Linked DNA regions of Homo sapiens: region 2 is linked to region 1. Evidence: fine-mapped expression QTL. A gene starts in region 1. The other region holds a variant in brackets. All regions are shown on one strand. Distances are from middle to middle.

The links.
Region 2: its variant is fine-mapped to the expression of ACOX3 in tibial nerve (GTEx, PIP 0.98).

What each region holds. Positions count from the first base shown.
Region 1 is chr4:8,439,586-8,442,085 of GRCh38, reverse strand. It overlaps ACOX3 (acyl-CoA oxidase 3, pristanoyl), which reads left to right and starts at 1,363. Exons shown (of 18, transcript NM_003501.3): 1 at 1,363-1,438. It overlaps TRMT44 (tRNA methyltransferase 44 homolog), which reads right to left and starts at 1,309. Exons shown (of 11, transcript NM_152544.3): 1 at 645-1,309. The coding sequence starts at 1,263. RefSeq lists silencers at 896-955, 1,006-1,215 and enhancers at 684-1,417, 1,236-1,475.
Region 2 is chr4:8,347,585-8,350,600 of GRCh38, reverse strand. No RefSeq gene overlaps it. Among named protein-coding and RNA genes, the nearest start is that of LINC02517, 29 kb to the right of the region's middle. The variant G/T (reference allele first, on the strand shown) is at 1,542.

The sequences.
Region 1 (2,500 bases):
AATGTGGTCAGACATGCAGGCTCCTAGTTAAGCACGCTCCCACTGGTTATTCTCCGACAAGTTAAAGATAACGCTGTTTGAGCACAAAGGAGATTCATTTAAACCGCCACTGCTATAGATGACATGTATGATGCACTGTCTCCCTTTCACCCTTTCGCCCCGAACGTCCGCTTCTTAGATCTAAGTGATTGTACTCAATAGTGTGGAGACCAGAGCTCCCAGGCTTTGGCAGCCTCCATTTTGCAATTGGCCCCCTGGCCCCCAATCTTTATGCACTCTTAACCTGTCTCGTCTCATTCCTTCGTCGCCACCGGACTTTGAGTACCCTACGGGTGGTGTTGAGGCTGGTCCCCAACACTTTTACACCTACAGCTTTACCTGCTAAACTCCTAGGTATTACGCAATATCCAGCTAGTCCTTCACTGTCTCTTTGAAGCCTTCCAGACACCACCCCAATCAATTATCCCATCTTCTGTACTAAGGACACACATTTCTATGCGCCCACTCAAAAAACTATGAAACACCTAACAACCTCCCTAGGACATCGCAGAGGAACTAGTACCCTTAGGACTTTTTCATTGACCCGAGGTTCTATGAATGCTTTTTTATCTAATCATATCCGTCCACTATCAAAACACTCTTACCTTGCACGACTATTTCCCTCCTGGGAGTTGTAAGGGGGCAATGTGGGCTAGTTTTCGGGATGACGGTTCTGAGAACCACGTCGAGCTCACGCTGCGCCTCTGGCTGCGATCCCGCCCCGGAGCTGGTGAGGAAGGCCAGCAACTCCGAATTGCCACGGGCGAGACTTTGGGAGAAATCCTCCCAAAGCGAATCCAGATCTGCGGCGGGGAAGTCGCCCTCCCTTCCTTCAGCATGGCCGGGGTGCCCGGAGTCCCTCAGGGGCACTGAGGCGGCTTCCCTCTGTGCCTCCTCTTGCTGGCACTGGCCCTGGGCCTCCTCAAGTTCGCAACATGCCGTGCCCTGCTCGGGTCCTGATAGCGACCTGGGACCCGGGCCCCCTCCGGGGGAACCCTGGCCGGGTCCCGGACCCCGCTCCTTCTGCTCCGAGCCTGCGCTAGTCCCGGGGCCGCGGGCCTCCGCGCAGGGCAGGGCGGCGCTCCAGCGGGCCTCCAGGCGGGCGCCGCAAAGCCGTTTGTTTGCCACCTGCGGCCTCTCCAGCCACACTTCGACCGCAGCCCAGAAGCCCTGTGGGAGAAGCGCGCCTGGGTAGCTGATCCCGGTACGGCCCACCTCAGCCATGGCAGCCAGCAGGTGTACAGCCCTGGCAGCGGCGCGCCGAGATGACGCAGCCCGGTGGCGCGGCGCGTTGACGTCATGGAGGCGGGGTGCTGGGACCGGAAATGAGAATGGCGCCGCTGGAGATCCTTTCCTGCTTTTGGTTTCCCTGGCAGGGGTTGAACTGTGGAGTGTGTGGGTGAGGAATTTGACCTGTGTTTTATTCCCTTTTGAGAGAATTCTGGGCGTGGTATAGTTACAGAATCAAACATCAGCCAGCCAGCGGGTGTGGAACGCATTGTCCTCAGTACTGATTACCGATAAAAGTCAGGGAGCCTAAGTTTGTGAACGTAAAAGATGAGTCCTCTTATGAAAGCTAACTTTTCTCCACTTGGGTTCTGGTTTGCTTTTAGTGCTGGCATTACAGCCAGTGCCTTCCTAAGTCTGAGTGCAGCCATGGCTGTTTCATAAGAATGATGTAACGTTGTCCCATGAGGGATGAAAGTCATCTGTCACCTACTGTAGCAGGACAAGCCACAGACAAAACTCCTCAGACACCGGATTAAAGAAGAAAGAGGTTTATTCGGCCGGGAGCATCGGCAGACTTGCGTCTTAAGAGCTGAGCTCCCCAAAAAAGAAATTCTTGGCCTGTTTAAAGGCTTACGACTTTAAGGGTCCACGTGAAAGGGTCGTGATAAATTGAGCAAGCATGGGAAACGTGACTGGGGGCTACATGAATCAGCTAACAGAACAGAAAGTTTTGCAATGCTTTTTTCATACAATGTCTGGAATTTACAGATAACACAAGTAGTTTAGGTCGGGGGTTGATGTTATTATTATTATTTTTTTTAACTCCTAGGGCCACGTGGTGGTGCCAAGGTTGTCTGGCTATTTATCTGACTTTTGTTTCTTTCTAACTTTTTGCTTTCTCTCTTTTCCTCCTGTCTTATGAACTAGGCAAGGTGGCAGGGAGGAGGGCAGCAGGAGTAGTAGTGGTCTCCTTATCCCTTCCTTTGAGAATTTTCACAAATTAGTGGGAGTTCTCGCTTTTATTTTTACTTTGAGTCTCTTTGGGAGACAGAGTGATAGTGTTTTATGTAATACACTTGCAGTGAGGGTTTTAAATTCTCTTATAGCTGGAAACTATCTTTTAAATAAAGACCTAGGATCAAACCTGTGTTAAACCAGTACAGGCACATGTGCCAACTTTGTCATGTCCTAAGCAGGTTAGTTTTTTTACTGGGTCTTAAAAGCTTTTTTC
Region 2 (3,016 bases), 92 kb after region 1:
CCCACAGGAGACATGGGCTCTGCTGTCCCCCAACTATGGGCTGTGCATGAGGGGCCGGCTCCCCTCTGTTCCCCTGACCAGGGACGGGTGTCTCCTTGCTGTGCCTCTCGTAGGACCCGCGCGTGAGGGGCTCAGCTGAGGTCAGTGGTGAGCCGAGGAGCTTGGACGGAACCACCTCTACACCAGGCAGGACGTGTGGGCAGCCGCAGAAATCTTGCTGCAGTATGCCATGGCTAGATGGAGTCTGCCAACCAGGGAAAAGTCCACTCTTCCTTGCAATATCATTGCATTTTAAATTCTTTAAAAACCATCACCAGGAAAAAAAATTTAAAAAGCTGCGGCTCCCTTCCAGTCCTATTAAATGAGCAAATGCTCTTTCCAGAGATCCTTACTTGCCAATTACAGTAACTGAGGAATTTTGTAAGGTATGCATTTCTTTTCGCATATAGGAATCCTGTATAAAATAACAGAGCACTGAAGAAAGACTCTGAAACTGCCAAGGGAGGTCGGCCCGCTGCCCTCAGCCTCTGGCATTCTGCATGGGATCCTGGCCTCTGGGTGAAATGTGCTAGAGCTGGGCTTCAGAAACGCAGGCAGGTTCCTCCTGGCCCCTCCCAGAAGTGAGGTCAGCATGGGAGAAGCCACTCCAGGGAGGAGATGACCCTCTGCCTTTCCTGAGGGAGAGGAGGTCAGCAACAAAGACCTTGAAGGTCCCGGGTCTTCCTTTGCAAACACAATGCTGTGGGAGTCCTAGCTCTTTACATCCTTCCCTGGAGTGATGACCACACAAGGTGTTACAGGTTCAGTTGCATCCCCCTACAATTTGTATGTTGAAGCCCTAACCTCCAGGAGTGCAGTGGTGCGATCTTGGCTCACTGCAACCTCTGCCTCCTAGGTTCAAGGGATTCTCCTACCTCAGCCTCCCGAGTAGCTGGAACTATAGGTGTGTGCCACCACGCCTCGCTATTTTTTTTGTATTTTTAGTAGGGACAGGGTTTCACCATGTTAGCCAGGATGGTCTCTATCTCCTGACCTCGTGATCCGCCCACCTCTACCTCCCAAAGTGCTGGGATTATAGGCGTGAGCCACCACGCCTGGCCAAGACAGGGCTTTTTAAGAGGTGATTAGGCCGGGCGCGGTGGCTCACGCCTGTCATCCCAGCACTTTGGGAGGCCAAGGTGGGTGGATCACCTGAGGTAGGGAGTTTGTGACCAGCCTGACCAACATGGATAAACCCCATCTCTACTAAAAATACAAAATTAGCCTGGCACGGTGGCACATGCTTGTAATCCCAGCTACTCGGGAGGCTGAGGCAGACAAATCACTTGAACCCAGGAGGCAGAGGTTGCTGTGAGCTGAGATCGCGCCATTGCACTCCAGCCTGGGTGACAAAAGCAAAACTCTGTGTCAAAAAAAAAAAAGTGATTAAGGTAAAGTGAGGTCATCAGAGTGGGCTCTAATCCAGTCTGACTGGTATCCTTATAAGAGATGAGGACACAGACAGTCACAGAGGGATGACCAGGTGAGGACACGGAGGGAAG[G/T]TGGCATCTGCAGGCCGAGGAGAGAGGCCTCAGGAGAAACCAATCCTGTCGACACCTTGGTCTCAGACTCTCAGCCCCCTGAGCTGTGAGAAAATAAATGTCTGTTGTTCCAGCCCCCAGTCTGTGGAACCCCACTATGGCAGCCCCAGTAGACTGATAATCATTCATTCCCTGTGGGATTTTTGTGAGCCCAGCCAGGGACCAGATGATTCCACCTATTTTATTTTATTTTATTTTATTTTATTTTATTTTATTTTATTTATTTTATTTTACAGACAGGGTCTCGCTCTGTCACCCAGGCTGGAGTACAGTGGCACGAGCTCAGCTCACCACAACCTCTGCCTCCCAGGCTCAAGTGATTTCTCCTGCCTCAGCCTCCCGAGTAGCTGGGATTATAGGCACCCGCCACCATACCCAGCCAATTTTTGTATTTTTTTAGTAGAGATGGGGTTTCACCATGTTGGCCAGGCTGGTCTTGAACTCCTGACCTCAAATGATCCACCCGCCTCGCCCTCCCAAAGTGCTGGGATTACAGGCATGAGCCACGGCGCCCAGCTGATTCCACCCATTTTAGATAAGGAAACTGAGGCAGAGAGAGGCTTAGTGGCTCATCTGAGGTCCCTCTGACAGTGGGGCACACCATACCCTGGGGCCAGGTTTCAACTTCTGGTCCAGGCTGTCACCTCCCAGAGGAAAAAATCACACGGTTTAGGGCTGCTGGATGATACAGGATGTTCAAGGGAAGCTGTGAGGAGGCACGTGCAAGCCTGGGAGGCCCAGGGTACAGTTGGGGCCTGATGCAGAAGCCAGCGAACTGCCATCTCACTTCCTCTTCCACCAGCCCTCCAGCCTCCAGAGCCCATCCTCCAGTGAGGACGTGGGCCATAGGAGGTCAGGAGCTGGCATGCAAACTCAAGTTCACCAGGCTCCAAAGTGTACTAGGGTGTCGCTGGAGAGAAACTGCAACCAATTTATGATTTACAGGGTCGTTCGCGCACATTATCTGATACCATCACCTCATGCCCATCACAAGGTCAGGATGAGCCCCGTTTTCCAGATGAGGAGACTGATTTCCAGAGAGCTCAAGTGACCAGCCTGTAGCCCCTGAGTGAGGGAGGAGAGGAGCCCTCGCTGCCTCTGCCCTGGTCTCTGCCCCAAATGAGGAGCTCCCACGGGACTGGGCACTGGGCACTGGGCATGGGGTAGGGGACCTTGCAGTGCTGACACTCAACGCATCAGAAGGAGGTGCTGCACCACCCACCCCCCTGCCATGTGCTACAGAGAACCACAGGCAAGGGGCATGGAGACGACTCAGTGCTGTGGGCTCTGGATGTTCTGCAGCAAACTCCTCCTTCTAGAAGGTTCCTTCCCTCCGCCCTCACTTCTGAGATGGCGCTGAGTCCATGGAGGTACACAGGGAATTGATACCTGGTGCCACAGAACACAGTTGGGTGATTCTTTCTGATTCTGAGTAC